Homo sapiens: one gene and its partners. The protein of the gene in region 1 purifies or fractionates together with the protein of each later gene. This does not show direct contact. Each region holds a gene or a part of one and is shown in the gene's direction. Other genes may lie near its edges.

The links.
Region 2: the proteins of FRMD1 (region 1) and SKAP2 purify together in Homo sapiens (affinity purification with mass spectrometry; 2 studies listed by BioGRID and IntAct, with this or other methods). This does not show direct contact.
Region 3: the proteins of FRMD1 (region 1) and CRNN purify together in Homo sapiens (affinity purification with mass spectrometry; 2 studies listed by BioGRID and IntAct, with this or other methods). This does not show direct contact.
Region 4: the proteins of FRMD1 (region 1) and LTF purify together in Homo sapiens (affinity purification with mass spectrometry; 2 studies listed by BioGRID and IntAct, with this or other methods). This does not show direct contact.
Region 5: the proteins of FRMD1 (region 1) and LYZ purify together in Homo sapiens (affinity purification with mass spectrometry; 2 studies listed by BioGRID and IntAct, with this or other methods). This does not show direct contact.
Region 6: the proteins of FRMD1 (region 1) and AMER1 purify together in Homo sapiens (affinity purification with mass spectrometry; 2 studies listed by BioGRID and IntAct, with this or other methods). This does not show direct contact.
Region 7: the proteins of FRMD1 (region 1) and PASK purify together in Homo sapiens (co-immunoprecipitation; 3 studies listed by BioGRID and IntAct, with this or other methods). This does not show direct contact.

What each region holds. Positions count from the first base shown.
Region 1 is NC_000006.12:168,055,213-168,058,712, reverse strand, and holds part of FRMD1 (FERM domain-containing protein 1), read left to right. Parts: intron 1-989; exon of another isoform or gene 990-1,208; intron 1,209-1,373; coding exon 1,374-1,616; 3' UTR 1,617-3,500.
Region 2 is NC_000007.14:26,725,091-26,728,590, reverse strand, and holds part of SKAP2 (src kinase-associated phosphoprotein 2), read left to right. Parts: intron 1-1,584; coding exon 1,585-1,709; intron 1,710-2,604; coding exon 2,605-2,668; intron 2,669-3,025; coding exon 3,026-3,163; intron 3,164-3,500. UniProt on the Homo sapiens protein: May be involved in B-cell and macrophage adhesion processes. In B-cells, may act by coupling the B-cell receptor (BCR) to integrin activation. May play a role in src signaling pathway.
Region 3 is NC_000001.11:152,411,464-152,415,410, reverse strand, and holds the start of CRNN (cornulin), read left to right. Parts: upstream 1-1,147; 5' UTR 1,148-1,197; intron 1,198-3,164; 5' UTR 3,165-3,177; coding exon 3,178-3,315; intron 3,316-3,947. UniProt on the Homo sapiens protein: Promotes cell proliferation, G1/S cell cycle progression and induces expression of the cell cycle regulator CCND1. Regulates proliferation induced by pro-inflammatory cytokine response via activation of NFKB1 and PI3K/AKT signaling pathways.
Region 4 is NC_000003.12:46,435,145-46,438,025, reverse strand, and holds the end of LTF (lactotransferrin isoform 1 preproprotein), read left to right. Parts: coding exon 1-86; intron 87-1,796; coding exon 1,797-1,831; 3' UTR 1,832-2,381; downstream 2,382-2,881. UniProt on the Homo sapiens protein: Transferrins are iron binding transport proteins which can bind two Fe(3+) ions in association with the binding of an anion, usually bicarbonate. Lactoferricin binds to the bacterial surface and is crucial for the bactericidal functions.
Region 5 is NC_000012.12:69,351,381-69,354,734, forward strand, and holds the end of LYZ (lysozyme C precursor), read left to right. Parts: intron 1-839; coding exon 840-918; intron 919-1,772; coding exon 1,773-1,839; 3' UTR 1,840-2,854; downstream 2,855-3,354. UniProt on the Homo sapiens protein: Lysozymes have primarily a bacteriolytic function; those in tissues and body fluids are associated with the monocyte-macrophage system and enhance the activity of immunoagents.
Region 6 is NC_000023.11:64,202,909-64,206,845, reverse strand, and holds the start of AMER1 (APC membrane recruitment protein 1), read left to right. Parts: upstream 1-1,137; 5' UTR 1,138-1,276; intron 1,277-3,937. Other genes in the region: uncharacterized protein LOC112268307, read right to left, coding at 762-827. UniProt on the Homo sapiens protein: Regulator of the canonical Wnt signaling pathway.
Region 7 is NC_000002.12:241,108,536-241,111,472, reverse strand, and holds part of PASK (PAS domain-containing serine/threonine-protein kinase), read left to right. Parts: intron 1-2,574; coding exon of another isoform or gene 2,575-2,774; exon of another isoform or gene 2,775-2,937. UniProt on the Homo sapiens protein: Serine/threonine-protein kinase involved in energy homeostasis and protein translation. Phosphorylates EEF1A1, GYS1, PDX1 and RPS6.

The sequences.
Region 1 (3,500 bases):
TTCCCCCACTTCCTGTAGAGCTACTGAGCCTTAGGATCCCCCAGAGGAGCTAGAGGAGAAGCGAGCCAGTGGTTCCTGGATGCCCAGGTGGGGAACAGGTGGGCTCAGGGTTCCCAGCCAGGCTCCGAGTTGCCCTCCCCACCCCCCAACCCCCGCCCCCGGCTCCACCACAGGAGGGTGAGGCCCCCTCTGGTCAGCCCTGTTCAGAATCCCCCTGGAAAGACACAGAAAATCGGTTGTGGCTGATTAGTTATCGTGATGCTGGATGGAGAGAGAAGAGGGCTGGGCACGGGAGGCTGGATGGAGAGAGAAGAGGGCTGGGCACGGGAGGCAGATGGAGAGAGAGAACAGGGCTGGGCACGAGAGGCTGCATGGAGAGAGAGAACAGGGCTGGGCACGAGAGGCTGCATGGAGAGAGAGAACAGGGCTGGGCACGGGAGGCTGGATGGAGAGAGAACAGGGCTGGGCACGGGAGGCGGATGGAGAGAGAGAACAGGGCTGGGCACGGGAGGCTGGATGGAGAGAGAACAGGGCTGGGCACCGGAGGCTGGATGGAGAGAGAACAGGGCTGGGCACGGGAGGAGGGAGGGGAGGCTGCAAGTCCTGGCAGGCGCGGGCCCATCCCAGTGGGGGCAATCCCAAACCCAGGTCAGCCCACTCAGTGGAGGAGACGGCTGCCCGAAGCCGCCTGAGCTCTGGGCCAGGGACTGTCACTCTTGAAAGACGTATTGATTAAAAACAAGGAAACACGCGTAGAAGGGCAAGTCAGACCCTGGCGCTGGGCAATCTTCGGCGTGGCCTGCCCCTGCCCCTGCCACCTGCCACCAGGGGCCTCATCTGCCTCCTGGGAGCACAGTGGTCCAAGGCAGATCTGAGGGGCCACGGCAGCCGAGAAGCTCGGGCTGGAGGCTTCACTTAAGGGCGATGACGCTGCCCGCTGGCCGCCCACCTGGACGGGACCTTGGACAGTCACCTCTGAACCCAGACAGTTTCCTCCCGTATAAAATAGGAGGCCGTTCTTGACCACTGAGGTGCTTCCAGAGCTAGTGTTCAAGGCCCACACTCAGACCTGATCCTAAATTACACCAAACGCTAAGAGTCCAGGTCCACTGAGTTAAAAGGCAGAAAGCAGCCCCAGGAAAGAAGCTGGGCAAGGTGGGGGCCTCCTGAAATGCATCAAAGGAAGATGCCAAGCCTCTCTCGCAGAGGTGTGTGCTGGGGGACCCGTCCAGGGGCAGGCCGGCCATGCACTGCGGCGCAGGGTGGGCATTGGCAGGGAGTGTGGCTCTGTGGCCACAAGCAGTGTGGCTGCCGTGTGCGGTGGTGGGAGTGAGAGGGGGCAGCAGGCCTCATCCCATGGCCTCTCCCCGCAGATCCAGGAAATGACAGCCGGGGTCAGTGAGGAGCAGCACAGCCATGGCCTGGACGACATGCAGCTGCACCAGCTGGCCCTGCACCCAGCGCCCACCTCACTCAGCCATACCTTCCACCGCGCCCTGGACTGCAGGCTGGCAGGCCCCTGCGAGACCAGGGCCACTCTCCCCAGCAAGAGGTCCAGCAACTGTCTCGCCCTGGACCTGTTCGGAGAGGCTCCACCACAGGAGTTTGTGGTGTAGGCACCACCCACCCAGCAGTACCGTCCGCACCGCCAGGCTCAGCCCCTGCCCACCCCACTTCCACATGGCCCTCGTCCCTTCCTGCCCGCCAGATGCTGCCTGCACTTCCGCAGCCAGCACGCTCCACAGGTTCACCTGTAAGAGGTGTGGAGCTGGCTCTGACATCAACCTGGGAGGTAACAAACAGGTCCCGCACCTCATGCCTGTCTGCCATACACCCGGGAGCTCTTTCCCTCAGGGTCTCAGGGAGCCAGTTCAAGGTCTGGCTGTCAAGTGTCCAGAGAGCCATGGTGTTGGCCCCTGAGGCAGCCTGTCACCCATCCTAATCTGGGAGAGAAGGTGACACAGCTGGGCCCAGACCCTGGAGAGACAGCTCTGCAGTTTCCCACACTGTCAGCTCCCCAAGAGACAGTCCTGATGGGCACAGGCTGCCAGAGCTCCCAAGCCGGAGTTCACAGTCATCACTGTGCAGGACCCAGGTTCCTCCCAGACCTGAACCCCTCTCTGCAACTCCTGTTTGCAAGCGCTGGGCCTGCCAGACAGAGGCCCCTCTTGTGGTGCAAGCCCAGCTCTGTCACCTGAGATCCAGCCAGAGACCCTCCTCCACCATCCACAGTCAATGGCTGTGCTTTCCCTTCCAAGCCAGGGCTTCCAAAGACCCCACTGCCCCGGAGCTGAAGCCGACTCTGCTCCCATCTCAGCCATGAGGCCTCAGGACCCACTCTGCTCACAGGTGGCTTCCTTAAGCCATTGCCCTGGCTGGGGTTGGGCTGGTGCAGCCCAGCTGGCGGAGGGGCGAAGCTTTGGTGACAGACGGAGAGTGGGGGACTAGCTGTGCATGGCACCTGCTCTGATCCGGTGGGCTCCACGGGTAGTGCGACCTCGGTTCTGTGGGCTCTGGAAGGCCACCAGGGTAGGGTCTCCCCAGGGCTCCTCCCCCTGCACAACACTCCTGCACACGTGCAAACCTGCTGTCCTCTGCATTTAGAGGAATGGCCCGTGCATCCCTGCTAGTCTCAGGCCCATCCCAGAGCACTGAGAGGCCACAATCGTTCAGCCCTGTGCCCTGAACACCACTGCCCCCTTCACTGTCTGTGTGTGGTGAAGACCACGCCACACCACCCTCCAGCTCACTGGAGACAAGCATGAGCTTGAGCCCCATGGCCTGGTGCAGGGCTGCGTGCATTGAGGCCGCCTCTTTGACGGGTCCATCCAGGGGGACCCTCTCCTTTCTGTGAAAGGGAATCGTGTGTGTGCCCCAGGCACGTGTAATAAAGAACCCGAGCAGATGCCTCCTGCTTGAACCAGGACCAGCCTGCCTGGGGGGCTGGTGAGATGCCGGCTGTAACTCACTCAGGGGCATCGGCCACAGAAGGCTGCGTTCTGTAGATGGCCACAAGCCCCAGTGCTGCCGAGGGCAAGACTGCCCACAATTCCTGTGCGGCAGGGGAGGTGCGCCTAGTGCTGGCTCAGATGTGAGCATGTGGGCACTTCCCAAAGCCATTCCCATTAGTACAAGATGATTGATTTGCCCCGCTCCGGGGCAATGACTATCTTCTTCCTTTGAAGAAACTTGGAAGCAAGAGCCCAGTCCCATGGACCATGAGGGAAGGTACACACCAGTGTTGGGGAGACACAGCAGGTGGTGTCCACCATGAAGCAGGGTCTGAGCCAAGACCTACATGCACACATGCACACATCCACATGCATGCACACACATACATGCACACACGCACACATCTGCACACAGATGCACACGCATGCACACACACACATGCACACATCCATACATGCACACTCCCCATGTCCAGGCTTCCCCTGCCAGTCACCTTCGCCACACGCCATAGACCCCAGGGGCAGCAAAGGCCGGGCCAGCCCACCCCT
Region 2 (3,500 bases), on another chromosome or scaffold:
GAGTGAGTGAATGATTTAGTCTTTTTTTGAGAATTTACAAGAACCAACCATGCTTAACCATTTATCATTTTAATACTTTTTTCCCAATAGTTTCCTAGTTAGGTGTCTTACGAAATATATCCTGGGAGTACCATAAAATATTCTGTGAAAAATGATTCCGCGGACAAATAATTTTTGGAAATGCTGCATACTAAATTTTTCTTATAGAAGTTTAATTACTATGTAAATGTACTAAGGGCTCCAAGAAGGCCTGAACTAACAAAACTGCTTAACTCTTGTTTAATTCGGCAAAACGTTTCCCAAATTGATTTGATCACAGAAACCTATTAATATCTTTGGGAAATGCTTCTCTAATCTTTAAAGTACTGTATCGTTTTTGTGAAAAACATAGAGTTTATTGTAGAATTTTTTCATGAAATAAACTTTGATTGTTTCTTTAGACATTCAGAGAGATGTAAATTATGACTAAATGTGATTAGAGTTTCCCAGGAACTGAGATTTTTTTTCTCATTTGATATTTTGAACAAGATATAATCTCTATGACCTAACATATGTTAGTTACTTTAGGCATTTAACTTGTGTATTTAAGAAAAGGAGATGTATCTTTTATTGGTACACTGAACTGAGAAAGCACACCCCACAACACGAAAGCATTTCTGTATTTGCCCCGAGCTCAGTAAAAGAGTTTGTCCCTACTCATGGTTTTAATATTGTTTGTTAATCTAGGAAATAAACCTATAGCTGTATAGTTTTTCTATCAAAATGGTGTAACTGGGTGAAGTAGGAAGGTTGACTAATTTTATTTTCAGTTTCAGAATATTAAGTCCTTTGTTATATTCGCACTTTACTTGTCTTTAAAATAATATCTGACCAAAGCTGTAATCATCTTTTGCCTCTTTATCATGTGAGATTCAAATGTGCTTTACTAGTTTAACTGTTCACTGACTGGATAAGAAACTTTCCCTCTATTTTTGGTAACTAATGCTTCTGTACTTGCTTTACCACTCTTCTTTATCCACATAGTTTTTTTTTCCTTCACATCTTTTTCGTCATGAGTAGTTTAGTTTAGTTTTGGTTTGCTTTGTAAGGTTAGAGATAAATTTGTACCAAGTTAGGAGACCTTTTTTAAAGAAAACTTTTGTTTTAGAAGCTTCTTTTTGGTGGTGGTGCTGGGGAGGGATAGGTGAAAGGAGATAACAGTAGATAAAGCCCGACAAGTTTTCAGCTGGACAGATCTTCCCACTGGCCTACTAAATCTGAAAGAGCCAAAGGTTTGTGGTGGGTTTGTCTAGCAAGTTCTATGTTCTAGTTCCTGAATTTTCCCTACCCTAGAGTGTCATGTTTCCATACTTCCTTCCAAATAAGACCATGATCTGCAGACCTCCTTGTAAGTCCAATCATCCCTAATACTTCCATGTTTCAGAATTAAAAATGATTTCTAAAAACATTACCTAAGCATTATATTACTAAAGCAATATGACCAAAAAATGTTATTTCCAAGAATTGATGAAGAAATTTTACATAAAAGATAATTGAGCATTAATACTTAGTAAATGAAATTCTAACTGGTTTTATCTTCAACAGACAAACAACAGAAAGGTGAATTTGCAATAGATGGCTACAGTGTCAGAATGAATAACACTCTAAGAAAGGATGGAAAGAAAGATTGCTGTTTTGAAATCTCTGCTCCTGATAAACGTATATATCAGGTTGTAGTTTTTATGTTGCCTTGAAATTAAGTTGATAAAATGTTTTGATTTCATTTATAGAGACATTAACATTTGATTAATACTTTCCTTGACATGTTAACAATAATAAAAATACTGATGTTTAAATATATTATGCATTGAACATTCATATAAGAGGAAATTTTTAAAAATTTCAGATTAATTCACACACTATCTTCTTGAAAAAGATAAAGAGAATATATAATTTATCAATTACTTCACATGTTGCACACATGTTGCATAGAACATAGGTGATCACATGTTGCATAGCACTAGGTGATCTTCCAAAAGAATTACATAGCAGAAAGAGTAAAATTATTAAAACAAAAATATCAGAGTGATAATACATATTGTATTGCTTAGGAGTGTGGGAGAAAATGAAGGTAAAAGTACACATCAGCTCTGCAATTCAATAGCTATCAGCTAGGCATCAATATGGAATGTATGTTTAATAAGTTTTAAATATCTGAGATTGCAGTTGAAAGCCAGTTAATTAAGTTGTCAGGTAGTGTGTTGGAATCTGACAAGAACATTTTTAAGAAAACTGTGTGCAGCAGTCTAAAGAAATTCATGGGTGTCTTCTAATTGTCAAGGGCAAATTTTGTTCATCAGTTCTGTCTTTGACATTGATGAAAGAGAAGCAGCTTTTTTTCCTGCACAGCTGCCAGCTGCTGATCAGCGTTTGAAATTCATCATCCTCTGCTTCAATTGCATAAATTTGTCAAAATTAACTGTACATTATAAGAAGCATCCTTGCAAGAAAAGTTCCACTAGACATGAAAAGAATTACTAATAGTCTTAAAGAAATGGTAAGAATACAACATACCTTTCATTCCTACTATGGTGATTTTCGTTCTTACTGTTTGTTTTATATTAGTTTACAGCAGCTTCTCCCAAAGATGCTGAAGAATGGGTACAGCAGCTGAAATTTGTATTGCAAGGTAAGATAAATCAATCGAACAAGTTATCACAGTCTTTAAATACTAAATAACAGAGTAGTTTGGGTTTTCATATACAAAAGCTTATTGACTTCTGTGAGAATGACCAACTTGAATGTGACTGTTATTAATACAGACCACTCACTTCAGATTTTAAACAGCATCTTTTCTATAAGTACCAATTGGCTTACTTTAAAATTCACATATTTACAAAACAATTTTTAAACATGTTTTTAGTTAAGGACATAACATATAACAATATTGTTGTTGCTTTGTAGGGCTGCATTTATTTATAAAGTATAGTTTTAAAAATATCTTCTGCATTCTTTTAAAATTTACTTCATGAAATGTGTTTTATAGATATGGAATCTGATATTATTCCTGAGGATTATGATGAGAGAGGAGAATTATATGATGATGTTGATCATCCTCTACCAATAAGCAATCCACTAACAAGCAGTCAACCAATAGATGATGAAATTTATGAAGAACTTCCAGGTATTTACTTTCTGGTGATTCATTTAAAGATTTTAGGGCTGTGTGTGTGTGTGTGAGTGTGTGTGTGTGTTTGTGTGTGTGATTTGTCCTCGACAGCTTGAGTAGAAAATGGTGACCTATTGAGAACAAGGACAAAGAATATCTTCAAAACTCTATTTTACAAAAAGGGTTCTGCTTGAGATATTTCAAGTGAGTAGATGTAACTTACGAAAAGTGAATGAAACATTAAAATGAAGCAGATACAATACTAATCTCTTGGGACTTGTGGCTCATTAGCATTGTTTATGCTACATAATTTTTTAATTAAAAAATTGACTTGCCTTACAGTTTTTTCCAC
Region 3 (3,947 bases), on another chromosome or scaffold:
CATTATCATTAACCTCTTGGGGACTTACCCCTGGGATGGCCAGGCTATAGACTTCATGAGAGTTGAAACTGCTGCCATCGTATTCAACACTGTATTCCTAGGGCCTTAGCCCTCTGCCTGAAATGGAGCAAGCTTTCCATAAATATTTGCTGATTAGCCACCAGTTGAGTTTCCTGTCCTTGCAATGAGGAGTTACCACATGATCATGGTAAGCCTTTTTTCTCATCAGCTACAAAATGCTACCTACCCATAGCATGGGGTGGGGAAGGTATTAACTTTTTTTGTTTTAATTAAAAATGAGACCAACTTTAAAGAGATGAAACTGGCTTTCTTGTGTCTCATACACTAGGTGTGAAAGGCACTTACAAAACAAGAATTCAAAAAATGTTCTAAGTAATAACAGTTCTAAGTAACATCACCACAAAAACATGTGTGCCCTCTCAGAGTGGCTACTTTGTAAAAGTTAACCTCAATAGATATATTCTTGAACATTTATATTAAAAAAGGAAACAGTGGCCAGGCACGGTGGCTCACACCTATAATCCCAGCACTTTGGGAGGCAGAGGCAGGTGAATCATGAGGTCAGGAGTTCAAGATCAGCCTGTTCAACATGGTGAAACCCTGTCTCTACTAAAAATACAAAAATTAACTGGGCATGGTGGCAGGCACCTGTAATCCCAGCTACTCAGGAGTCTGAGGCAGGGAATTGCTTGAACCCAGGAGGCGGAGGTTGCAGTGAGCCAAGATCGCACCACTGCACTCCAGCCTGGGCGACAGAGCAGGACTCCATCTCAAAAAAAAAAAAAAAAAAAAAAGGAAAGAGTCCCATAACTTTGTAGGCTCATAGAGACAAAGAATGTTCACCAGGACCCCAGCCTGTACCAAGCACTGCTGAGCCCATCACAATGGAAAGAAGCTTCCCTGTCAAGAGGACTCAGCTACAGAAGGTACCAAATGTGGTAGGAGGGGCCTGTTAATTAGACCAAGGCAGTCACACATCAGCAGGTAAAACAGAGACAAGAGGAGGTGTGGCTGGGCTGGGCTGGATCTTGGATGAATCAAGCCTTCCCATAGGGCAGGATATCCTGTCTAAAACAAGAGCCTTGGTTAAAACCCCTATAAAAGGTTCTCATCACACTGACCTGGTACTCCTCACACCACTTAACAGCCACTTGTTTCATCCCACCTGGGCATTAGGTAAGTCCCCTCATAAGAAACCTCTTTCTCATTCTCAGTGTCTTGGTGATCTGAGCTCATAAAACTGGGGCAGTCAGGTATGGACTATGCATCCTTCAGAGCTAGCTGTGAGCACTGGGCAAACCAACGCTACCGTTGGGAAACATGCTCTCCTGAAGCAATCAGGCTTTCTCCTCCTCCCTGAGGCTGGCCTGGGAGCAGCTCCTCTCACTGGGAAACTGTGTGGGCAGCGGCTATGGGGCCACCCATGTGCCTTCCTGGATCAGCAAAGGTTTCTTTTTTCTAAGGCTCTGGAAGCTTCTTTGCAGTGCTGAGAGTCTATGGGATCAGAATCAGTTTACTTATGCCAACCTAGACAATAAGATCAAACTGTGTCATGGATGAAGGGGTTTACATGATTCCCCTCTCCTACACCAGGGTGATATTTAGGCAAAATATGTGTAGATTTTTCTAAGGAATCTAAAATGTAACTAAAAGGTCATCTTATTATTTTATTATCTAAAGGTCAGTGGTTAAAGTCTGCTACATGGTTTTAAAAAAAAAGAAAGATATTTTTCATCTATGTTGAGGAAAACATCCCCAGTTTTTTACCTTGATGAAAAGTTTGCCTGAAATTGTTGGTTACCAGGTCCTAGAAAGGGTTTCTCCTGAACAGCCCACCTTTTGCTATGACTTACTGAGTCCTCATGGCCACACTAATCTGCTTTTTCTAGAACTCAAGTCTCCTTCCTTCCTTTTTTCTCTTTCTTCTCCTACCTATATCTGCCTCGTCCCATCCTCTCTCTGGCTTTCCAGCTGCTACAGGCTCCATCTCCCCTTGCATTTGAGACTTGTCATCTTTGATACCATCTCCTCCTTTGGGTCTCTCCAAGGCTTCTGCTTAATGAATCTTCAAGTCTCTTTTCCTTTTGCTCATGCAACCAAACCCAGGCCTCACCTCAACCTACCTCTAGATTTCTGGCTAATGAAAAAGAAAAGCTTTCCCTTTGATTAGGAACCAACTCATAGGTCACCAGAAATCTGGGCCTGATGGAGCCACGTGCCTGTTGGGCAAGCTGACTTCTCTGATAAGTCTCAGGGCTGTGGACAGAGGCGACATGCAGAGAAACTTGGACCCTCAGAACTGGAAGGCCTCCCACCCAAAGAAGGTTCCCCCCTCCTGAGCATTCCCAGCAGGTGGTAGCCCAGTTTCTTCCCACTTTCCCAAAAAAAACAAGAAGGGAGGGCTGTGTCCCTGGAATTTCTGCTTGGCTCCCATCCAAGACAGGGGTTGACTCACAGATGTATTTACTTCCTTTTGGTGTTCCCGATGGGACCCTAACACCCTTGTGATAAATAAATAAATCCTGTCCACAGGGTACATTCTAGAAAGCCCATTGCATTTGGGTTAAGGAAAAATGGATCCTAGGATTTCTTGGCTCCTTAAAAATTGTGTGGCCTAACTTCTCTGAGCCTGTTTCCTCACCTATAAAAAAAAGTGGAAATAATAAGGATTAGAAGAGATGATGTACAGGAAAGTGATTATATAGGTGTACAAAAATTATATGTGTGTATATGTATATAATAGCATAATAATTATATTTAATAAGGAGCACTTAATATAAGCCAGGCATCTGCCAAGTGCTTTTTATGAATTATGTCTTTAAATCTTCACAATAATCCCACAGAGTACTAATATCACCTTCAATTACAATGAGTAGTAAACTGAGGCATGGAGAGGCAAAGCAACTTGTCCCAGCTCACACCATACTTAAGTGGTGGGGCCAGCATTTAATCCTGACTCAGGAACCTGCCTCCATCCTGTGTGCTCCTCCTTCCCATACATAAGATGCATTATGTAGGAAAGGACAAAGGAAAACTAAAAACAGAGCTGAACGTGCAAGGAAAGACCTAGCAGCAGACGTGCTATAAAGGAAATAGCTGAGGTTGATTATGGAGCCTCCAAGGGAACTTTTCATCTTTTCCAGGTTGACTTCAAAGATGCCTCAGTTACTGCAAAACATTAATGGGATCATCGAGGCCTTCAGGCGCTATGCAAGGACGGAGGGCAACTGCACAGCGCTCACCCGAGGGGAGCTGAAAAGACTCTTGGAGCAAGAGTTTGCCGATGTGATTGTGGTACGGTGTGCTGAGCCGGGTGGAGAGGGGACATAGCAGGAGAGTGAAACCTGGTTTGCCTGCAGAGGCCTTGCCTGGGGAATTTGAGGAGGCAGCAGCTAAACCCAGGCCTGCCGGGACAGATGGCAGCTGTGCAGGCAGAAAAAAAGGTGAAAGAACCAGAGATGGTCATGGGAGTTGGCAAGTCCTGGCTCTTTAGATTAAAACCTTGGTTTTAATTAATTCTAACTTAAAGACAAGGTAAAAGGGCTCTAAAAGGACAACTCAGACAGGAGCAGAGCCTTGGAATATTTCAAAATGAAAATAATTGCTGCTTTCTGCCGCCTCTTAAATTTGATACAGTAAATATTTCCCACGTCTATCTGAAATGTAATCATCCATTCATAGACATTCATTAGAAGCATAGCTCTGGGCTTGCACGAAGCAGTTACTCAAAAATATTAGCAGACTGATCACATCAGAAATGAAATTTTGAAGAGCAGGTTGTTAATAGCTAGGGGGAGACTTTGGAGCCTCACCCCACCCCACCTGGCAAACCAGAACCAAGGCCTTGATGCACTTTCCTGTCTTTGGTTTGCATCTAAAGCAACCAGGATGATGATGGCCTTAGGGACAAGGACATATGGGCACAG
Region 4 (2,881 bases), on another chromosome or scaffold:
ACTCCATGGCAAAACAACATATGAAAAATATTTGGGACCACAGTATGTCGCAGGCATTACTAATCTGAAAAAGTGCTCAACCTCCCGTAAGTAGACCCTAGCTAGCATCCCCGAGAAACCACCATGGGTGAAGGTCAAGGTTTGAGGGCCAAACAGCATTCTAGGAACGAACACAGGTGTAAAAATGTTAAGGAAAGATAATATCTCTTTACAGTTCAGGAAATTATAATCTCATTGATAAAATAATTAGAGAATAAAATAGAGCAGTATGTAATAAATTTTTATAAATTTTATAGTACGGATAGTGATGGCACTGTCATGAAATCTTTGGAAACTGATAATCCATTTTATTCAGTAAAATGAAAGGTGCATATATACATATGCATTGAGAAATGACAAAACCAGCCACGTGTGATGGCTCACACCTGTCATCCCACCACCTTGGGAAGCAGAGGTGGGAGGATGGCTTGAGCCCGGGAGTTTGAGACCAATGTGGCCAACACAGAGAGACCTTGTTCTACAAAAATAATTTTAAAAATTAGCCTGGTGTGGTGTCAAGCACCTCTAGTCCCAGCTACTTGAGAGGCTGAAATAGGAGGATTGCTTGATCCCAGAAGGTTGAAGCTGCAGTGAGCTATGATTGTACCACTGCACTACAGCCTAGGTGACACCGAAAGACCCTTCCTCAAAAAAAAAAAAAAAAAATCTGATTCTAGACAGTTACCATAGATGCCAACTATAGAGAAAACAAAATCTCAAAAAAATTCAAGTGTAGGAAAACACATCTTAACCAGGGAAATATGTTGATATTAATTTAATCCCTTAAAAATATTTAGAAGACATCACAGAGTATTGTAAGGCTCCCGGTGATAACTGTGGGATTTCAGTGTGCACAGCTCCCTGTGCACTGCAATCATTCAGATTCCTATTCCTGGTCCCTCACCCAGAGTTGGGGGCATTAGGGATGCTGTTGGTCCAAGGATGGGGGCAGGGCCAGAAATGTCTTTATCGGTAGTTTTCAATGAGAGACAATTTTTCCCCTGAGGGGATATTTGACAATGTGAGAAGCATTTTTTTGATTCTTACAACATAGAGGGTGCTGCTGGTAACAAATAGGTAGAGGCCAGGGATGCTACTAAACAAAGCACAGCCAGCCCCCTGCAATAAAGGGTTATTATCAGGCCCCAAATGTCAATAGTGCCAAGGTTGAGAAACCCTTTTCTGTATTGACAAACAACTCAGGTCACTGTGATGCAGGTCAGGACCACCCTCTGAGAAATATGGCTACAGGGCTCTTCTTGTGAGCAGCCAGCTCAGGACTGCATAGACCACATGCTTCTTGAGGGCAGGCCAGTCTATCCATGCTGTGTCCCCAGCACTTAGCACAGCAACTCACACAAAGCAGGTGCTCAGTAAGGATCTGTGAATGAATGAGTGAATCTGCAGGTGAACATGATTGCAAACAGGTTCACATTCCGGGAGAAGCTAGAGGACCACCAATGTCTTGTGAACTTGAGAATGTGACAGTCGATTCAATCAGAGACAAGTGCAGGGTGGTTGTGTCTCTCAGGCCAGAGCAGGGAAACACCCTGGCTGGTGAGGGCTAGACTCTGGCTCCCTTGAACACCGTAGTCGCTAGGAGTAGGGGAGTGGGAATATGAGTGTGGCAAGCACTGACTCAGTGATGGGAGAAGGGCAGAGAAAACTCTTAGTATTCTCTTTGATTTATTGGATTAAATAACTGGTTTAATGGAAGAAATCAGTTTCTGAATCTCTTGCTCTGTTGTGTCCCACAGCCCTCCTGGAAGCCTGTGAATTCCTCAGGAAGTAAAACCGAAGAAGATGGCCCAGCTCCCCAAGAAAGCCTCAGCCATTCACTGCCCCCAGCTCTTCTCCCCAGGTGTGTTGGGGCCTTGGCCTCCCCTGCTGAAGGTGGGGATTGCCCATCCATCTGCTTACAATTCCCTGCTGTCGTCTTAGCAAGAAGTAAAATGAGAAATTTTGTTGATATTCTCTCCTTATAAAGTGTCACTCATCTTTTCTAGAATTTTATACTGAAATCACATGCCTGACAAAATACCTGTACAGTTGGACCTTCCCTTCCAAGTTTTTCAGGTCCAGCCCCTCCTCTTTCTTGCAGTCTTGGGTATGATGCCCAAGGGTCTGGAATTTAAGGCCAGGCCAAGCACCGGTTTTCCTAAGGGGATCTTGTTGGTTATTCACATAGCTGTCTCAGTGCACGTGCATGTATGTGCCTGGGAGTGTGTGCGTGTCCCCAAGGCAGGGCAGGAAGAGCAAGCATAGGAATTATAACTGAAATGTAGGTTCAGTTGCTCATCACTTGCAGAGTCTAATTAACAAGAGCTAGGTTTGGTATAAAGTGACTTTTATTCCAAAGCTACCTTAGGGGAAGAAGTACAGGCTTCTTTCCTTAAGGGTAACTGCTTCACCTTTGGAGCAGAAAGCAGAGGCTTTTAAATGGGGGGCGTGGCATGCAAGGCAGGAAGTGAGCAGGTAGAGGGTCTGGGTACTGGCTTTGGTGCCTTGTCTACCAGGCAGTTGAGTTGGTTACTGCTGGTGCCTTTGTGGGCAAAACTAGGTTGTAAAAGCAGCCAAAAAATTTCCAGATGGGAGAGTTTCATAGCGGGCATATTTTGGCTTGTGAATTGACTGTTATGTCTCAAGGTAGTCTCTTGGTGGGAGAGAGTTCTGCTCTGTAGCGTCTAACTAAGAGCACATAGTTAGATGAACTTGCCCTGTTGGGAGTGTCTGGTGAAGGGGAGATAAAAGATTATAATTGCATTTCTAAAGAGCTAAGTAGGAAGCAGAGAAAAGGAGAGAGAAGTGAAGACAGAATAATTTTAAATAATGAAGAGAGAAA
Region 5 (3,354 bases), on another chromosome or scaffold:
TTTATATTATATAATAATATTTGGTCATTAAATAAAAATTAGAAAATACAAATAAGAAAAATAACACCCATAATCTTACTACCCAGAGGTTTATAACCATGGGTAAATTCTGGTATATATTCTTCCAGAATGTATATCAATCATGTGTATGAATGTTAAATTATATCATACACATATAAACCCACATACAAACATGTAAATACTGTGTGCTTTTGCAAAAATTAAATTGTATTATACACACGGCTTTACAATTTGCTTCTTATCACACAAAATTATTTGCATGTCAGCAAATACAAATCGGTTTTTAATGATCTTTTGCTCCATTTTCCAGATGAGAAAAAAATACAAATCTGTATCATCATTTTAAAAGAATGACTAGAATTTTAATATATGAATATTCTATAATTTACTGATCCAATTGTTACTATTGAGCACTTAGGTTGTTTCCATTTTTCCCTCATAAATTGCTATGAATAGCTTTTTGTATACATCTTTGGGTGCATTTCTTATTTCTTTTGGATAAATTTTCAATAATAGAACTGCTGAGTAAAATATCACTAGGTGTTTTTTTACAGTGTCTAGTGCAAAGAAGACCTTTAATCATTTTGTTAATACTTCCAGAGCTTCCAATGACTTTGGTAAATGAAGAAAAAAATGCTTCATTTCATGCTGAATGGGAGAGAATGAAGAGAGTTTTCCCCAACAATTACACATATATGGACTCATAGAAAATAATATCTTACCATTCTTTCCACAGCCTAACAGAAAAAAGCTGGCTAAACCTAAATTTAAAATAAAATATCTATTAAAGTTTTTATTCCTTACCACCTGTCTTTCAGCTTTGCTGCAAGATAACATCGCTGATGCTGTAGCTTGTGCAAAGAGGGTTGTCCGTGATCCACAAGGCATTAGAGCATGGTATGTTTTAAGTGTTAAAAGGGAAAACTATCTTACTCTACTGTTGATATATACAATGAGAGCAGACTTTTAAAGACCAAAGTATGCTAATGACACCTCAAAATTGCAGCTTTTGGCTTATGCTAAATGATGTATTACCTACATCCTTGAAGAAACAATCTACTTTAACTGATCCAGAATCTTACTCTTTTACTCCTCAATTTATTTTAGGGGATTTCTAGAGTTTTAAGATGCTTCACACTCTATCAGTTCCTTGTCATATCTTGAAATTCTTTTTAGAATAAGTAAGTGTGGGCCGGGCACAGTGGCTCACGCCTGTAATCCCAGCACTTTGGGAGACCGAGGCAGATGGATCACCTGAGGTCAGGAGTTCGAGACCAGCCTGCCTAACATGGCAAAACCCCATCTCCACTAAAAATACAAAAAATTAGCTGGGTGTGGTGGCAGGTGCCTGTAATCCCAGCCACTCGGGAGGCTGAGGCAGGAGACTTGCTTGAACCCGGGAGGTGGAGGTTGCAGAGGATTGCGCCATTGTACTTCAGCCTGGGCGACAGAGTGAGACTCTGTCTCAAATAAATACATAAAAAATAAATGTGGAATTCACTTTGCAGTTGCTGCTGTACAACGCACATTACTCAATCTTTATGTTCGGCATTCTATGCTCTACTGAGAAATTTGGGTAGGAGTGAAGTATTTTGTATACATATCTTCATTTAATAAATAGCAATAGCTGGGTCTATCTTACTATTTTATCTATTGATAAAATATTTTGTTTCCCCAAGGAGTGCGAAGTATGTATATTACAATGAAGATATGTTTTAACCTTTCACCATTTGCTTCATCTTTTTCTACAGGGTGGCATGGAGAAATCGTTGTCAAAACAGAGATGTCCGTCAGTATGTTCAAGGTTGTGGAGTGTAACTCCAGAATTTTCCTTCTTCAGCTCATTTTGTCTCTCTCACATTAAGGGAGTAGGAATTAAGTGAAAGGTCACACTACCATTATTTCCCCTTCAAACAAATAATATTTTTACAGAAGCAGGAGCAAAATATGGCCTTTCTTCTAAGAGATATAATGTTCACTAATGTGGTTATTTTACATTAAGCCTACAACATTTTTCAGTTTGCAAATAGAACTAATACTGGTGAAAATTTACCTAAAACCTTGGTTATCAAATACATCTCCAGTACATTCCGTTCTTTTTTTTTTTGAGACAGTCTCGCTCTGTCGCCCAGGCTGGAGTGCAGTGGCGCAATCTCGGCTCACTGCAACCTCCACCTCCCGGGTTCACGCCATTCTCCTGCCTCAGCCTCCCGAGTAGCTGGGATTACGGGCGCCCGCCACCACGCCCGGCTAATTTTTTGTATTTTTAGTAGAGACAGGGTTTCACCGTGTTAGCCAGGATGGTCTCGATCTCCTGACCTTGTGATCCACCCACCTCGGCCTCCCAAAGTGCTGGGATTACAGGCGTGAGCCACTGCGCCCGGCCACATTCAGTTCTTATCAAAGAAATAACCCAGACTTAATCTTGAATGATACGATTATGCCCAATATTAAGTAAAAAATATAAGAAAAGGTTATCTTAAATAGATCTTAGGCAAAATACCAGCTGATGAAGGCATCTGATGCCTTCATCTGTTCAGTCATCTCCAAAAACAGTAAAAATAACCACTTTTTGTTGGGCAATATGAAATTTTTAAAGGAGTAGAATACCAAATGATAGAAACAGACTGCCTGAATTGAGAATTTTGATTTCTTAAAGTGTGTTTCTTTCTAAATTGCTGTTCCTTAATTTGATTAATTTAATTCATGTATTATGATTAAATCTGAGGCAGATGAGCTTACAAGTATTGAAATAATTACTAATTAATCACAAATGTGAAGTTATGCATGATGTAAAAAATACAAACATTCTAATTAAAGGCTTTGCAACACATGCCTTGTCTGTTTTTATTTAGACTCCTATAGTGTCTCTGAAGAAAAGAATACAGATATTTGAAAAAATATGATTTGGTGCTCTTAATATCTCTTATATCGTCACTTACCTCACTTAAATAGTCAGATATTGCTGGAGAAAAATTCACAAGCATGCTGACAGGTCTCACTTTAAATTCATAACCATAAATCTCAAATGAGCCCTCAAGTCTGCCTGACCATTTTAGTTACTTCTCTACAATCCTTCCATTTTTATGTCCCTAGTCTCCAAAATGACTGTTACTATTTTACTTTTCCTCTTCTCTCTTCAAAGCCTCAAGACACACATTCAGCCTCCTCCTCTGCCCCCTTATCCTCCACCCTCCTCTGCTCTCAGCAGATAACCTGGCCTCATATTACACTTCTAAAACAAAAGCAACTTCATACCAAGCTTTCCCTTCTACATCCCAAAGCAGCAGTCATACCTTCCCACAGGCCCATCCTTCCTTCCTTCCCTCCTAT
Region 6 (3,937 bases), on another chromosome or scaffold:
CTAGATTCTTTGCTGCCTCAGCTCACCTGGCCCTGGCAGCCACTGATGCCACTTAATGTCCTTAGGCTAGAGACCCAAGTTCGCCGGGCTCCCTGCCACATCCCACACACAGTAGCAGACAAGGCTGGTACAGGCCTCCTCACTTTGTCCTCAGCCTGACCTCCGGTTTGGGCCCAGACAAGATTTTCCTCTCAATATTTAGACTTTTCAAGGAAAAAGGCCTGCCGAAAGCCAGGCTCACAAAGGATGGGGGAAGGGGGACTCTGGAGACCTTGGGGATTCCCTCCACATTCCATAGAAGGTGCGAAATTTGGGTGAGGGTCAAACTATGGAAACAGGTATCATCTCAGAGAAGAAAAGTGAAAGCAATCCTGGAAAGGGAGCCCGGGGCTCTGGATTCCAAATTGGCCCTTGTCGCCGGCAGGCTGGGTAACTGTGGGGAGGGACTTTCCCCACTCTGGGCAGCAGAGGGCCCGTCGGTAACGGGTGGAAGTTGGCCTCTATGGTCTCTAAGGGCACTGGTGTGCCAGAGAGGCGGACGAAGTTAGGGCGCAGGCGCTGCAGCTAGCTTTCCTGGCAGGTGAGTCCCTCCTCTGGGTGGCCTGGCGGCGCGATCCGCAGGGCCTTGTCTCTACGACTAAGGATAGGCCGGCCCTTAGGTTTCTGCAGTCTTCCCAGATTCCTCAACCTCTCTGCCTCGTTACTCCCCGCCGGCCTCTAGCTCAGGAATAAACGTCCTGGTGGCGGCCAGGGCACAGTACCGCGAATGCACAGCGGCCACAGAAATGGGAGTGCGTGAAAACCGAAACCGATCCGGCGAGCCCCATCCGGGCAGGACTGGCTCCTTGAGGCCACGGTGTAGCCACGCCACTACCAGCCCGGCGTGGGGGCGGGAGTGGGGAGCCCCAGCCAGTGGTTCCGCACCCTCTCCGCCCCCTGCCAACACCACGCCTGCACTTATTTGCATTTAAAGAGAAACGCACCAAGGAAAACAGTGGGCGGGCCGGGGCACGCCTTCCCACCATAGCGATTGGGCCATATGCCTGCCAATCAGGACGCAGATGCCCCACCCGGTGGCCTTGGAGTACTGGGGGAGGGGGTATGGGGGAGCTACCCAAAGCCTGGGGAAGGGGAGTCAGTGCTGGAGGTGACTGGAGCCGCGGCGACGGCGGCAGCAGCTGCGGTGGCGGCGCTCTCAGCCGTGGCAGCCGAGGCTGCAGCCCGGCCCAGGGCGGCTCAGCGGACAATAACCGGGCTAGGAACCTGACCGGGCTGGGTAAGCGTTGCGTACAGCCAGGAGCCTCCGCCTGCCCGCGGTCGGGTGCATTCCCGCGTGCTCTGCTCCTACGGACTGGAGGAGGGCACTAAGGACTAGGCGGGTCGGAGTCCCGGTCGCTCGCCCCTCTCCTTTGGAACCCGCTTTGCGGACTGTCGGGTGGAGAGGCAGAGCGGCCTTGAGTCCCCTGGGCACAAGCGACCACGGCTGGGGGGAGGGGGGTTGGGGAGGGCGGGTAGGAAGGCAGGCTAGCCTGGGCCAAGCCTCCCGGCTTTCGGGGGGGCGGGGATGGGCCCGCACGTGCTGCCGCACAGTCCCGGGAAGGGCGCCGCCAGCCAGCACCCCAAGCCATGCATTTGTAGGCCAGGAGCTCTGCAGCTTTGTTGTAGCACATTTGCTGGAACAGCTGTGTAACGCGGGTACCGCTCACCCCTCTCTCCGGCTGCCTGGCTGCCGCCCCTCCCCTCCCCTGTGCATCTCCAGCCTCTCCCTCCTTTCTGCGGACTCAAGCTGGCGTGCTGGCTTGGGCCCGACGGAGACCGGCTTTGGCGTGGATTGGGACATCCACAGACTGCCCCCTCCCCAGAGGAGCTCAGTTGGGCCTGTGGGCTGAGCTCAGTCGCACACTTCCCTTCAGAACCTTGGCCTTGTGGCCCCAACTAGCCGCGCCCCTCCTCCTGGGCCTCCGGGCGCATCTGGCGCCCGCCCCCGCGGTCGGGCAGGCTGGCTGGCAGCCGGGCTCTTGCTGGTCCTTGGGTTAGAGCAGCGGCGCAAGCTAGTCCTTGAGTTAGAGCTGCAAGGCCGCTTTGTCTCCCGCCTCGCCTCGCCTCACCTCCTTTTCCCTTGGAGGATACTGGCCGCGTTTTCCTCTCCAGCCTCCCGTTTAAAAATAGCAATAGGCACGGTGTTTGGGGGGCATTTCCTTGCCAGAGGCCGAAGGAGCCCTCATTGTAGTACGGAACGTATCATACCATCTCTGTGTACAGGAGAGCTAGCGAGGTGGCCAAACCCTCCAACTTCGCAGTTACTTAACATACCCAGCCCGCCAGGCCCCTGTCATTGTCTGCTGGAGACACTTCTGACACTGGTGACCGCCCGAACGCTGGACTTTGCTTGGCTCCCCCGGTGGTGAGGGGCTGTGCCCGCTACATGCGTCACAGCCCAAGCGCCTAGGCGGCAGCTGGACTGGCCCCGCAGAGCTGGTCTCCGTTTGGCCAGGCTGCTTTCGGCAAGGGCCGCGGGGTCAAGGCGAGCCTTGTTCCACACACAAACATCTTCCTCTGCGGCTCTGCCTGCCTGCTGCAGCGGCGTGGGCATGGGCAAGGCAGAGGGCACTGCACTGTTGGACTGCCTGCCCCACCGGGATTCCAGCAGAGCCCCCTCCCCCAGTGTGGCTCCCCTCATTCGGCACCACCCACTGCACAGTCACTGCACCATGGTGCACCTCTGGCAGTGGGCTCTCTAGGCCTTTTTGAGGAATAGGACAGAGGAAGCCACTGGGGGCTTGGTAAGCTCTTGGACCTTTGATTAACCTCTGGTGTGGAGAGCCCTGTGGGCTGCAGGGCCCAGGCAAAGCTTGGGCACTTTGAGGAGGGGCAACGAGACCCAGTAAATTCCTCACTTGGGGGAAGGCTAGCTCTGGACCTTTATGACAGGAGCCAGGACCACAGATATCACACTACAGTCACCTCCTCCCACCTTGATTAGGCCCCAACACAAACCTCTACTTGCAGCTGGGCATCTCTAGCCCAGGGCTGGACCTGCCCTCTGCCTTGTCTCAGGCCAGCAGGCACCTAATGTATCTGCTCTATGTAACTCCCTTCCCCACACCCAAACCCACTCAGCCTACACCTGTCCAAATCTTCTTCCTTCTCAAACCTCAGTTCTGGGCCTTCCTTTTCCTTGGTGCCTTTCTGCCTGGCTCTTGCCCACCCATGGTGACTTCTTTCTTCTCAGAACTCCTCCAGGGCTGCCTACTTCTCCTGGGCATATTCAGGCTTAAATTATAATAGGATGCAGACTATAATTAAGTTGGCCTGCCTCTGTTTTGTCTGATATCATGGATGTCTGGGTTCTCTCAGAACCCTTTGGAGGAGTAAATAAAACCTGGACCTCAGCCACAACCCTCTCAAAGCCAAGCAGTGCAGAGCAGTTAATGATTGTTCCGGAAGGACTTGCTTTCTTTGTAGAGTTTTCCAGAAGACCTTTACCTTTCCAACTTGCGCTTGTCCTGATTCATATGAAAGTGGCTAGAGAAATGATACTCAAGGCTCAGATATGTATTGAGTGTGCCTAATGAGGATGGATTAGAAGGGGGATGATTGCAACTACAAGAAAAAAATCATGATATATCTTCCCCCAACAACAGGCCCAGGATTTGGAATGCTCAGATCCCAGACCATGCATATCTTTGGTTGCTGATTCATGAGCCAAGAGACAAACTACTTGGAGAGAGATGAAAGATCTGTATAAGCAGGGGGATCATCCATGGAAGCTGCCAGAAAGTAGAGGGGTTTAGTAGGCAAAGCATAAGCAGACCCAGGAATGGGAGGGGAGAAAGTGATTGACAGGCAGGGTGAAGGGAGTGAATGAGTCTATTCTGGTTGAGATGGTGTGGCTCAGAGGTAGAGAAGAGATTGAGGCTCAGTGATGGGGTTTCCC
Region 7 (2,937 bases), on another chromosome or scaffold:
TAAGTCAGAAATAGATAGCAGGTGTTTTCCACTAACACCTACATGTATTTTAGAGAGGTGTGGTTGGAATGCATCTCTAGGTGAGTTCATGGTTAGAGAGTCGGATGATCACAGCACTGCTTGGACCCTCCTGGCCCTCTGCTGCAGTGCTCTGCTGCACCGCCCATATCTGCTCCATGTGGTTCTCTAGGAGGGAAGCTGATGCTGCCCCCACAGGAGAGGCACACGGGGTCCCTCACAGACCTGCTGCACCTGACCTGGTGGCCTGAGGCCAGGGCATTTGCTCGCAGTCACGCACGAGCTCCATGCCGTGCCTTGGGCTCTCGGGAGGGCCTCAGCATTGGGGAGAGGAGTGGCTGGGCTCTGGATCCTGGTGTCTGCTTAGGCCATATTTCATTAGGAGGTGCAGGTTCCAGGCTGCACACCCTGAGTCCTCAGAGCCCAGCAGCCTCAGCCTGCGCCAACCTCTCCATGCCAGGCAGCGTTGAGCTCTTCTGGGCCTGGATGCCCTGTGTGCAGAGTATGGAGGAAGTGAAAATGGGCTCTTCCCCGCTAGAACCTCCATGCATCTTCAGAGCCACCAAACAGCGTGAAATATCGAAGGGGGTTGGTCTAAGAAGGGCCGTGGAGTTTCCCTTCAGATCTAGTTTGGTTGCCCTAGAGCCTGGTGGGCGCTGGTGGGCTCTGCCTGCCCTGCAGTGGTTGTCGTGCCCTCCGTGCTGGAGGGAACTGCCTGTCCCCTGTCCACTGACCCATGATGCCTGCTGCATGGCTTGTCACCCCTTCCTGTACCCAGGCCGTGAAGCTTGGGGAGGGTGCAGGGGGGATCCAACCTGGGCGAGAGCTCAGTGCTGCTTGGCCACCTTGGCCCTGCCTCCCAGAGCTGTGGCTCCCACCCTCTCCCTGAGCGCCTGCCCTGCCAGGGCTCTGCCCTGCCTCCTGGCCTCTCCTTTCTGGCTGTGAGCGGTGTACTGCTCCTGGGCCTGCGGGGCTGCAGGCCTCCTCTCAGGAGCTCCTTCCTCCCTCCTGCGTCCTCTCCCCATCTCCCTGGATGAAAGGGTTTCTGAGTTCTTATTCTCAATCCCATCCTCAGGGCCCTGGCTTCTGTCTTGTCATCTTCATCTCCGTCTACTCCAGGGTCGGCAGACTGTGGCCTTAGGTCCCTCTTCCCCTTCCTCAGGCCCTGGCAGCTGCCATTCTGCTATTTTCTCTATGAATCTGACTACTCTAGGGACCTCCTATACGTGGAATCGTACAGCATTTGCCTTTTGGTGACTGGCTTATTTCACTTTGCATAAAGTCCTCAAGGTCCATCCATGTTGTGGCCTGTGCCAGCATCTTCCTTTTCAAGGCTGAATTTGATTGCGTTTTCTGGATATGCTGTACTTATTCATCTGTCAGTGGACATTTGTGTTGCTTCTACCTTTTGCTTCCATCTTTATGTTGTTCGTGATGCTGCTACAAACGTGTGTGCAAACATCCCCTGCCTCTTGTTTCTATAAATAAAGTTTTATTGGAATGGAGCTGTGCTCATTTGCTTATGTGTCGTCTGTAGCTGCCTTTGTCCTACATGACAGAGTTGAGTTGCAGTGGGGACCATGTGGCCCAAAACCTGAAATATTTACTATTTGACCCTTCACAGGAAAAGTTTGCCAACCTCTGTTCTGTTCTATTGGATATTTCTCTTCAGCTTCTAAACATCTTGAAATCTCTCTAAAAAACAGAAACAACACAAAAACAAAAACTGCTGAAACTGATTTTCTTGCTCTAGCCCCTACAGCTCTCATCCGTCCGCTCAGCTTCCCTGCGGTCTGTGCTAGCCACCCCACCACCCTGCTGACTCAGCCTGGGGGCCCGACTTTCACCCACGCTGCTGCTCTGGCCTCTGTGATCTGCCCTCTTGAGCCCTCCCCTCCCCTCCCCTCCCCTCCCTCCCAGCCCCTCTTCTCCGAGTCCAGCCCGGGGCTCTGTCCGTGCCACTCTTCTCACTGCTGTGGTTTCTCTTGGCTCCCTTGTCTAATTCTGGTTCTGAGAACAGGCTGCTGCTTCCCAGACCTCTTCTGGGGACAGACCCCCAGCTGCGGACCTGGAGACGCATGGCCTTGGCCAGTGCAGGGGCAGGGCTGTGGGTGCTGGTGACCTGGCTCTGGTGCGTGCTTGGCAGCAACTTCACCTCACCAAGCCTTGCTCTTCTGTGCAAAATGAAAGTCATATTTATCTTGCTAGGTTGTTGTGAGGATTTGGGTTAAGCCATGTAAAATGCTGGTACAGCATTGGCATCTCTAGGTACCCAATAGATGGTAGCATGGATGAGGATGTTTACGGTGACAGGAAATAAATGGTAGCATGGATGAGGATGTTTACGGTGACAGGAAATAAATGGTAGCGTGGATGAGGATGTTTACGGCGACAGGAAATAAATGGTAGCGTGGATGAGGATGTTTACGGTGACAGGAAATAAATGGTAGCGTGGATGAGGATGTTTACGGTGACAGGAAATAAATGGTAGCGTGGATGAGGATGTTTACGGCGACAGGAAGTAACAATAGTCCTTTGGGTGTCTTCTCCCTGAAGCTTGCTCCTCCATTTGGCCCACTGTGTGAACACCCACCTTCACCACGTCCTTCTTGTTTGCTTTCATCCTTCGGTGTTTTTCCCTGTTCAGTCTCGTCCTGCAGCACCCTTCACATCGTCGCCACAGCCATCTTCCTAAAGGGCATGTGTGTCCATGGTCACACCAAGCCCGTTCACACCAAGATCGTGAACATGCCTGATCACGTCTGAAGGGCACGTGACCCTGTTCTGAAGTGGCCTGCAGCTCCCGTGGCCCTCAGCAAAGCCAATGGACGTGTACTCTGCTTCCTCCAGGAAGCCCTCCCCCCGCTCCCCCCTCTGGTAGACACGTCTTGTGGTTGGTGTCCACAAGGAAGTTCCTGA